3 linked regions of the Homo sapiens genome follow. The protein of the gene in region 2 purifies or fractionates together with the protein of the main gene of each other region. This does not show direct contact. Each region holds a gene or a part of one and is shown on either strand. Other genes may lie near its edges. The genes, in order: PCSK9, TCTN1 and SMOC1.

Region 1 (3,500 bases), on a different chromosome or scaffold from region 2:
GAAAGGTCATTGACCCAGGGTCAAGGCTGAACTCCCTGGGCTACCTGCATGACCCTCTTGGGGCCTGGGTTTCTTCATCTGCACTCGTGGCCACTGGGAACCCTGCCAGCCTTGGCACTCTGGTTCTCTGGCTCTGCGGCAGAGGCTGCCACAGCATTCTTGGTTAGGAGACATTAGCTCTCCCTGGGCCCAGCCCAAGCCACCTCCCAGGCCAGGTCCAGATGGAGAGAGACCAGCGTCTGGGGCCATCACTTACCTATGAGGGTGCCGCTAACCGTGCCCTTCCCTTGGCAGTTGAGCACGCGCAGGCTGCGCATGCTGGCACCCTTGGCCACGCCGGCATCCCGGCCGCTGACCACCCCTGCCAGGTGGGTGCCATGACTGTCACACTTGCTGGCCTGCTCGACGAACACAAGGACCACATGAGAAAGACCCCCCCTCCACCCTATAACAAATCAGCAGGTGGCTGGATGGATGAACGCCCTTCCCACAACTGATGGCAGGGAGGGGACAGTGACAGCTGGGGGGGGTGCAACCCAGGAGTACAGCTGCAACGCTCTGGGGTGGCAGTCCCCACCCACCTCCAGGATGGGGATATGGGCAGAGGCAGCCCTCCCATCAGACGGCCGTGCTTACCTGTCTGTGGAAGCGGGTCCCGTCCTCCTCGGGCACATTCTCGAAGTCGGTGACCATGACCCTGCCCTCGATTTCCCGGTGGTCACTCTGTATGCTGGTGTCTAGGAGATACACCTCCACCAGGCTGCCTCCGTCTTTCCAAGGCGACATTTGTGGGAGAGGAGGGAATGAGCATAAAGTCAACCTTATAGTTAACACACAGAAACTACAGAGCACATCCCAGGCACTGGTGAAAGCGCCTTAAATATATTCACTCGTTTAACCTCCAAAAAATCCTCACACACTACATCCTATTCTATAATGTATTTCATAGACAAGGAAAGGGAGGCCTAGAGAGGGCAGGTAACTGTCCAAGGCCATCAGCTGGCAATGCTACTGCCAAGAAGGACCCAAGTCATCCTGCTCCTTCATATGAATATCAATATCTAACAATAATATGAATGTTCAAAAAATAGTATCAAAGTGTAAAATAAAGCCCCTATTATAGCCTTTCACAGCTCACCGAGTCTGCAAGAAAGACAACAAGATTTAAAGACTCAAAGGAGAATAACAGTGATGTCTGGCCACCTGCGCTGGCCGGCTCATTTTAGAGACAGGAAGCTGCAGCTCGGACAGGATGTATGTCTGGGCCTCCTGGCTCCAGGTCCAAGCGTTCTCCACTCCACAAGATACCAGGAGGGCTCACGGGGACTGCTTCTGCCTCACACGAGTCACAACCTCAGAGAAAACAGTCACCGAGCGCCTACCCTACACTTTATCATCCCTAACTGGATCAGTTTGGATTCTCCAAGAAGCAGGCACTGGGGTAAAAGCTGCAAGAGACTCACTGGGGGAGTCGCCCATGCAGGACAAAGGTTAGGGTATAGGAGAAAGTAGGGAGAGCTCACAGATGCCAGGCAGGTCCAGCCTGCTGGATGGAGAAGGGAGAGAGGAAGAAAGGAAGCAAGGAAGGAAGCACCTCCGCTCCAGCGCAGGTCTCAGAAACTCTCAGCCAGGCCAAAGGAAGACTTCAGGCAGGTTGCTGCTAGCAGAGTCCTGCGCCAGCGGAAATGGCCTGGCCCTGGAACCCCTGCAGCCAGGAAAAGCAGGGCCTCAGGTGGAATCAGAGGGCAGCCCTCTGGGCTGTCAGTCAAACTGCTCCTGCCCCAGGGTCTCCTGAGTCTTCTGAAGTGCCATCTGAACAGCACCTCTGTGGCCCCCGCAGTGATCCTCCAAATATGCTGCAGAGTAGAGATTCTCATCTCAGGACAGGTGAGCAAGTGTGGGAGGCTCAGGGCGTGTACCCACTTCTTATGGCTTCGGTCACAAATTCCCAGACTCAGCAGCGAAGGCTCTGGGAAGAACCCTGCCTCACGTCTTCCGGCTTCTGGTGGCTGCTGGTGTTCCCTGGCTTGTGGCCACATTTCTCCAATCTCCACCTCTGTCTCCACGTGGCCCCTCCTGTGTGTGTCAAATCTCCCTCTGCCTTTCTCTCATAAAGACACATCACAGGACTTACAGCCCACCGCATAATCCAGATGATGCCATCTTGAGATGCTTAATTACATCTACAAAGACCTTTTCTCCAAATAAGGTCTGGCTCACAGGCTCTGTCTGGGTGTGTGTATCTGTGGGGGCCACTATTTAGCCCCCTACAGAGCAATTCAGTGGCTGCTCTGAGATCCCACATGAATTTCAGGCAAGGTCGGCCCCCAGTCCCGCATCCTCCCACCCACCCACTATGCTAGTAGGTCTGGGCACAGTCCGAACTGTGAGTCCCCAGCCTGCACACACACTGTCTACCCTGCCCTAAGGCCTCCAGTCTCGGCAGGAAGCTCCACTGATCAGTCCCGTGGGCACTTTGGTTTCTTCTGTAGCATGCTGAGCAGGTCCTTGGCAGTCTGCCTCTCCTCCCAGGCTGTGGGATGAGGCGGAGTCCTTGCTCTCTGAGTGTGTTAGGAGCTTTCACTCATCAATAGGCATCTACCATGTGCCCGGTGCTACACTGGGAAGGGGTGGCTGAGAGCGCTGTGAGCTCCGACCTGAAGACATCTGGAGACCAAACAGTGCTCGCCACCCTAGAGGAACCACTAGATATTGAGCTGGGCTATGGAATGTCGAAGGGGCAGACACAAGACAAGGCCAGCAAGGTGGGCAGAGGCCAGATGGTGCCAGGCCCATAAGCCATGCTCAGTCTGCTCCTAGCAGAGGCCCCGGGCTGGCTGCAGGGGATACAGGTGCTCAGGAAGCAGCCCAAGGTTTTCCCTCAGAGCTTCCAGGCTGACGGGACAACTGGATACATTGGCAGACAGCCCGGGGAATACAGGCTTATCTAGAAGACAGCACAGAGGCTGCTTCCCTCCCTGGACGTAAGCCACACAACGCACATCGAGCAGAAGGCCTGCTGGGCAGGCTTCCAGTCCATGTTCCTCGTCGTGTGTGAGGAGGGAACTGAGGCTGCAGCTGAGTTAGCCCAGGTGAGAGTCCTTTCTGGTCCCACCCGTGCTTGGGACCACCATCTGCTCCAGGAGCTGTACCTGGGTTCTGCTGCAAGATGATGTGACCACTGTGGGGTCCCATCCCTGGGCCTGGGGTGTGGCCCCAGCGGCAGATGGAAGCTCGGGGAGGCAGCCCCACACCTTCTAAGTGCAGGCGGTTCCTGCCCGCTCACACCAGCCCACTGTCCTGCTGGGACAGGGTCAGGAGGCTGCAAGCATGGCCAGCAGAGGGCAGGTGGGCCTGGTAAAAGCCCCCACAGGAACATCCTTGGGCTTCCTTCCAGTGAGAGGCTGGAAAGGGGCCCAGCTCGGATGAGACACAGGGCCCTTCCTAGGCCTCCCTCTATCTTCCAAACCCCCGGGTGAGGCAGGGGCTGCTAGTTCCCT
Region 2 (3,725 bases):
CACAGTGGCTCACGCCTACAATGCCAGTACTTTGGGAGGCCATGGCAGGAGGATCACTTGAAGCCAGGATTTCAAGACCAGCCTGGGCCACAAAGTGAGATTTTGTCTCTAAAAAAAAAAAAAAATAGACAGATAGCTGGACAGACAGATAATAGTATAGAGATAGTCATAATAAAAATGGGACCATATTCTACATACTGTTTTAAGGCTTTTCTCACTTAATATATAATGCCTAATATGCACTTACAATATTATAAGTGGCTTCATCATCGTATACCAGCCTATTAATACCCCAATTTGTTTAACCAATATAGATATGGATATGGTACAGCCCAAGCACCGTGGCTCATGCCTGTAATCCCAGCATTTTGGGAGGCTGGGGAGGATCACTTGAGGCCAGGAGTTCAAGACCAGCCTGGGCAACACAGACCCCGATCTCTACAGAAAACAAAGAAAAAATTAGCCCGGCATGCTGGCAGATGCTTATAGTTCTAACTACTTGGGAGGCTGAGGTAGGAGGACTGCTTGAGCCCAGGAGCAAGGTTACAGCGAGCTATGATCGTTGGTTTAGGTTTAGGTTTCTAATTTTCCCCAATTATATGTAATGCTATAATGACAACCTTATACATACATCTTTATGACTGTCTCCAGTTGTTTCCTTAGGATATGTTTCCTGAACTGGAACTGCTAAACCAAAAGGCAGGTAACATTATTTAAAGCTTCTGAGACACACTCCCAGATTGCCCTCTAGAAGGGCACAATATACATTCTCACCAACACTGTAGTAAGAGTGCCTATTTCCCTGTACCCTTGCCAAGACTGGATATTATCATTCCGTTTTTACTGGGCCTTAAAGGATAAGTAGAAATCAGACAGACAGTAGGAATGGGAAGCAAATCCAAGTGCAAGAACGGCAATGGCCAAGGCTGGGTAACGACTCATGGTCTTTGGGAAACTCTGAGTACCAAGGTTGGGCTGGAGTGGATTTGAGATGGCTGGTAGCAGGTGATAGGCTCTGAAAGAAGGTGGGAATGAATCTGAATCCAGGCTAAGAAGCCTATAGATAATGAGAACTTCTGAAGGTCTTTTAGTGAGTGCTTGACAGGATGAGGTGTGAGCTCATAAAGCAGGAGCAGGGATGGACGACCACGAGGGCTAGAGTGATGGAAGGCTCCACAGAATGGGATTCCTTACTCCCCTCCAGTCAGCCACCTCCCCAATCCTGTGCAGTATTTCAGTATCATCATCAGATCTAGATACTTCTCCCTAGCCCCACTGTCACAGCTTTTGGGGAGGATGGGGAGGGAAACCGTTAATCCGCATCTGCAATAGCTTTTTACTTGGTTCTCTGCCACCAGGCTTGGCCTTGTGATCCACTGCATATGATGCTGCAGAATTACATAAGATGGGAATCTGATCCTCTTACAACCCAGGCCCTGTGGACTTCAGGACAGAGTCCAAACCCCTTAGCATATACACAAGGCCCCTGGGGACCTGACCCCTGATCTCTTTCCTACACTCCTCTCACCCCACCCCTCTTCTGGCCACACTGAGTTACCTGCAGTTAAGCAGGCCATCCCACATCCCCCCATCTCTGTCCACGCAGTTCCCTCTGCCTGGAATGCCCTTCCCCTCAGTCCATGCTGACCATCTTCCACGTGTCCTTCAGGACCCAGCTCAGCTCCTGTTTTCTGGGGAGCATTCCTTAGTGGGGCTGAGTTAGATGCCATTCCTCTGCCTTCTCATCGTGCTTGATGTAGAAACTGCCATCCACTCCTCTGTCTCCCTTACTCGACGGTAAGCTCTTTGAAGGCAGGAGAGTGCCTAACTCATCTTTATGTCCCTGGTGCTGGCATTCAGGAGGTACTCAAGAAAGGTTGGGAGAAAGGAAAGACTGCTGAGACAGGAAAAGGAAAGGAAGAGGCAAGGGTCAGGGGAGCCTCCAGGTTTTTGGCCTGGTGTCGGCCTAAAAGACTAATGGTAGAGGAAGTCAACAAGGGACACTAGGAAATCAGTTAGAGGTGGAAGGGAGAAATTCATTCATCCATTCAACTCATTATTATTATTATTATTTTTTTTTATGGAGTTTCGCTCTTGTTGCCCGGGCTAGAGTGCAATGGTGCGATCTTGGCTCCTGCAACCTCTGCCTCCCAGGTTCAAGCGATTCTCCCACCTCAGCCCCCTGAGTAGCTGGGATTACAGGCACCCACCACCACGCCCAGCTGATTTTTGTATTTTTAGTAGACACGGGGTTTCACTATCTTGGCCAGGCTGGTCTCAAACTCCTGACCTCAAGTGATCTACATGCCTCAGCCTCCCAAAGTGCTGGGATTACAGGCGTGAGACACCATGCCCAGCCAATTCAACTCATTCTTAACGAGGGCCCACTATGTGGCAGGAGCTCTACTAGGTACTAATGGTTAAGGAGAAAAGAGATCTTCCAGGTTAGGCGCAGTGGCTCACGCCTGTAATCCCAGCACTTTGGGAGGCCGAGGTGGGCGGATCACGAGGTCAGAAGTTCAAGACCAGCCTGGCTAACACGGTGAAACCCTGTCTCTACTAAAAATACAAAAAATTAGCTGGGCATGGTGGCACACGCCTGTAGTCCCAGCTCGTTGGGAGGCTGAGGCAGGAAAATTGCTTGAAGCCAGCAGGCAGAGGTTGCAGTGAGCCGAGATGGAGGCACTGCACTCCAGCCTGGGCAACAGAGCAAGACTCTGTCTCAAAAAAAAAAAAAATAGCCCCAAGTTGGAGCAAAAATGTCACTTTCAGGCTCCTGTATTTACTAAAGGGAGGAAAACAGAATGACTTTCAACAAATACTGAAACATGCTACAGGCCAGGTAGCCAGAAAATTAATCTGACTACATTGCCCTGTTCTCTGAGCATTTTTACAATACTAGAAATAGGCTCAAAATCCCATTGGTCAATAAAATAGTTTCTCACAGGAAAAACCCATTGTACTTCTTAAAAGGGTTCACCTATCAAGTATCAATTGCTAAAACTTGCTATAAGGCTAAATTTAAATTAGCTATCTCTGAATACTAAGTTGGTCCCATCCTGAATTAATGAGCCTCTTCTAAGTGCTCCTAGTTTTTCAAAAAGCCTTGAAGCTGGGCGCGTTGGCTTACACCTGAAATCCCGGCACTTTGGGAGGCCAAGGAGGGCGGATCACCTGAGGTCAGGAGTTCGAGAGCAGCCTGACCAATATGGTGAAACCCCACCTCTACTAAAAATACGCCAGGCATCGTGGCGTGCACCTGTAGTCCCAGCTACTCAGGAGGCTGAGACAGGAGAATTGCTTGAAGCCAGGAGGCGGTGGTTGCAGTGAGCCACTATCACACCACTGCACTCCAGCCTGGGCAACAGAGCGAGACTCCATCTCATAAAAAAAAAAAAAAAAAAGAAGCCTTGAAACCTCAATTATAAGAGATCATTCAGAACAGATTATTTATTTACCTTATAATCAGCTGGAAATGTCATTTTTCATTGTTCTATACAATGCGAACTGTGAGAATTCCTGGTAGATTTACATATCAGAAAAGTACAGATTTCTTATCTAATTTTTTGTTACAAATACTATGTCCACAACAAAAGCTGTGAAATTAAAATGCACTTTTCACCCTAGGCTATACTAATTCACTGATACAAAAAATGTGACCACTGTCTACAACTCAAATTGAAATGTAATTCAATCTTCAAACACAGAGGTTTCATTACATTATT
Region 3 (3,725 bases), on a different chromosome or scaffold from region 2:
GTGCCTCCTGCGATTAACCAGTTCACCCAGGCCCTGGACCGCCAAACAGCTACTCAGCTGCTTAAGCTGGCCCACAAGTACAGGCCAGAGACAAAGCAAGAGAAGAAGCAGAGACTGTTGGCCCGGGCCGAGAAGAAAGCTGCTGGCAAAGGGGACGTCCCGAAGAAGAGACCACCTGTCCTTCGAGCAGGAGTTAACACTGTCACCACCTTGGTGGAGAACAAGAAAGCTCAGCTGGTGGTGATTTCACACGACATGGATCCCATCGAGCTGGTTGTCTTCTTGCCTGCCCTATGTCGTAAAATGGGGGTCCCTTACTGCATTATCAAGGGGAAGGCAAGACTGGGACGTCTAGTCCACAGGAAGACCTGCACCACTGTCGCCTTCACACAGGTGAACTCAGAAGACAAAGGCGCTTTGGCTAAGCTGGTGGAAGCTATCAGGACCAATTACAATGACAGATACGATGAGATCCGCCGTCACTGGGGTGGCAATGTCCTGGGTCCTAAGTCTGTGGCTCGTATCGCCAAGCGCAAAAAGGCAAAGGCTAAAGAACTTGCCACTAAACTGGGTTAAATGTACACTGTTGAGTTTTCTGTACATAAAAATAATTAAAATAATACAAATTTTCCTTAAAAAAAAAAAAAAAGAAGTTGTTCGAAGGAGAGAGTAATCGTTCCTAAGCAAAAAGAATGCTCTGTAGAAAAGTTCCTAGAGAGTAATGTTGGAACTGGGTTTTGAAGGATGAATCAAGTGATCAAGAGGTGAGAGAAGAAATAACAAATATCTAAAACATTTAAGAAATAAGTTTCAGGTTGAAGAATACACAAATGAATGGAAAGAGATGTCACGTTCATGAATTGGAAGAGCAAATGTTGTGAAAATGTCTATACTTCCCAAAGCAATCTACAGATTCAGTGCAATCCCTATAAAAATACTAAGATGTTCTTCATAGAAATAGAAAAAAAAACCCTAAAATTTTTGTAGAACCACAAAAGACCCTGAATAGCCAAAGCAAAGTAAAAAGTAACAAGAACAAAGCCAGAGGCATCACACTATATGACTTCAAAATAAACTACAAAGCTATAGAACCAAGACAGCATGGTAATGGCATAAAAACAGACACATAGACCAATGGAACAGAAGACAGAGCCCAAAAATAAATCCACGCATTTACAGACAACTGATTTCAACAAAGGTACCAAGAACACACAATGGGGAAAGGAAAATCTTCAATAAATGGTGTTAGGAAAACTGGATATCCACATGCAGAAGAATGAAATTAGACCCTCATCTCTCACCATATACAAAAATTGACTCAAATGAATTAAAGACTTAAATGTAAGATCCAAAACTATGACACTATTAAAAGAAAACATAGGGGGAAAGCTCCATGACTTTGGTTTGGGGACCTCAAAAGCACAAGCAACAAAAGCAAAAATAGACAAATGAAATTATACCAAACTAAAAAGCTTCTACACACCAAGGAAAACAATTAACCAAGTAAAGAGATAACCTAGAGAATGGGAGAACATATTCACAAACTGTATATCTGATAAGGAGTTAATATGCAAAGTACACAGAGAACTCAAATCACTTAATAGCAAAAAAAACAAAAAACAATGCAATGAAAAAATGGGCAAAAGATCTGAATAGGTATTTCTCAAAAGAAGACATAGAAATGGGCAATAGGTATATTTAAAAATGCTCGGCCGGGCGCGGTGGCTCACGCCTGTAGTCCCAACACTTTGGGAGGCCGAGGCGGGTGGATCATGAGGTCGGGAGATCGAGACCATCCTGGCTAACAAGGTGAAACCCCGTCTCTACTAAAAATACAAAAAATTAGCCGGGCGCGGTGGCGGGCGCCTGTAGTCCCAGCTACTCGGGAGGCTGAGGCAGGAGAATGGCGTGAACCCGGGAAGCGGAGCTTGCAGTGAGCCAAGATTGCGCCACTGCAGTCCGCAGTCCGGCCTGGGCGACAGAGCGAGACTCCGTCTCAAAAAAAAAAAAAAAAAAAAAAAAAAAATGCTCAACATCACTAATCATCAGGGAAATGCATTCAAACCACAATGAGATACCACCTCACTCCAGTTAGAATGGCTATTATCAAAAAGACAAAAAACAACAAGTGCTGGTAAGGATATGGAGAAAAGGGAGTTCTCACATACTGTTGGTGGGAACATAAATTAGTACAGCCATCATGAGAAACAGTAAAAACATTCCTCAAAAAATTTAAAGCAGAACTAGCATATGATCCAGCAATCTCACTGCTGGACATTTATCCAAAGGAAATGAAATCAGTATGTTGAAGAAATACCTGTTCTCCCATGTTTATTGCAGCATTGTTCACAATAGCCAGGATATGAAATCAACCTAATTGTCTATCAGTGGATGAATGGATAGAGAAAATATGGTATATATACACAAGGAATACTATTCAGCCACAGAAAAGAATGAAGTCCTGTCATTTGCAACAATGTAGATGAACCTGGAGGACGTTAAGAAAAGTAAGCCAGCCACAGAAGGACAGATACTGCATAATCTCACTCATATGTGGAATCTAAAAAAATTGGTCTCATAGAAGTAGAAAGTAGAACAGTGGTTACCAGAGGCTGAGGAAGGAAGAGGGGAGAGGGAAAGGAGAGAGGTTGGTCAAAGGGTACATAATTATAGTTAGAGAGGAGTAATAAATTCAAGAGATCTATTCAAAGTGACTATAGTTAATGACAAGTTATTGTATCCTTGAAAAATGCAAAGAGTGGATGTTAAGTGCTCTCACCACAAAAATAATAATTATGCGAGGTAATGCTATCATTAATTAGCTAGATTTAACTATTTCATAATGTATATATACTTCAAAACATCATATTGTGCACAATAAATACATACAATGCTATCTGTCAAATTTAAAAAATAAAAATCCATTTCTGACTCAGACCTCTTGATCTTCGCATCATCTCCTATTTCTCACACTTCTTAAATCTAGTTCCTGCCTCCAGTCAAAGTGGAACCTGTAATCACTCTCAAACACACATTATCTGCATTTATTTGTTCATTCCATCAGTACCAACAAAGTAAATCTTGACAGGTGTCTGGCCCCTTGCTGAGCTCTGGAGATAAATCCCTGGACAAGACAGAAACAGTTCCTGCCTTCACCCAGCTTTCCATCTTCAAGGGAGACACAGAATTTAACAAAGACAGGCAGTTGGCTTGACCATCGGCCAGACACCATCAGCCAGGGAGAGCCCCTCCCCCATCCCATCCTCCCCTGAAACATTTTCAGTAAATTGTGCAGGATTAAAGAAACGGCTGCCTCCTCAGTGATTAAAAGAATCCTGACCAACGTCCCAGCTAGCCAAGCAACCACTCACAGTTGAGAGACCCCAAAATCAGGTGCTTCCTACATAATAGCCTCCAATCTGATACTCGATAGCCGCTGGTTTCCAGAGTCAAACAAATGTCAAGAATTTTATGAAGGAAGGCAGGAAGCAAATAAGGGGGCGAGGACTGGGGTCTAGGCCTCGGGGGAGCTCAATTAGTGAGCCAGATAAAGTTAAACTGAAAGGGCATGCTCTTGGTTTCCTAGAAAGCCAGCTGGAAAAGATGCCAATCCTTAAGCCTCTGTCACTCAAAAGATTAACAGAAGAGACTTAGGAGCGCCCACAGGGAATAATGCAACAAGCCAGATGTTTCTGCTCCTCGGATGACGCCGCTCTCAACAACCA

What was found.
Region 1: the proteins of TCTN1 (region 2) and PCSK9 purify together in Homo sapiens (affinity purification with mass spectrometry; one large-scale study listed by BioGRID and IntAct). This does not show direct contact.
Region 3: the proteins of TCTN1 (region 2) and SMOC1 purify together in Homo sapiens (affinity purification with mass spectrometry; one large-scale study listed by BioGRID and IntAct). This does not show direct contact.

What each region holds. Positions count from the first base shown.
Region 1 is NC_000001.11:55,049,548-55,053,047, reverse strand, and holds part of PCSK9 (proprotein convertase subtilisin/kexin type 9 isoform 1 preproprotein), read right to left. Parts: intron 1,857-3,500; exon of another isoform or gene 1,595-1,856; intron 771-1,594; coding exon 637-770; intron 402-636; coding exon of another isoform or gene 399-401; coding exon 257-398; intron 1-256.
Region 2 is NC_000012.12:110,620,490-110,624,214, reverse strand, and holds part of TCTN1 (tectonic-1 isoform 1 precursor), read right to left. Parts: intron 1-3,725. UniProt on the Homo sapiens protein: Component of the tectonic-like complex, a complex localized at the transition zone of primary cilia and acting as a barrier that prevents diffusion of transmembrane proteins between the cilia and plasma membranes.
Region 3 is NC_000014.9:69,882,191-69,885,915, reverse strand, and holds part of SMOC1 (SPARC-related modular calcium-binding protein 1 isoform 1 precursor), read right to left. Parts: intron 635-3,725; exon of another isoform or gene 1-634. UniProt on the Homo sapiens protein: Plays essential roles in both eye and limb development. Probable regulator of osteoblast differentiation.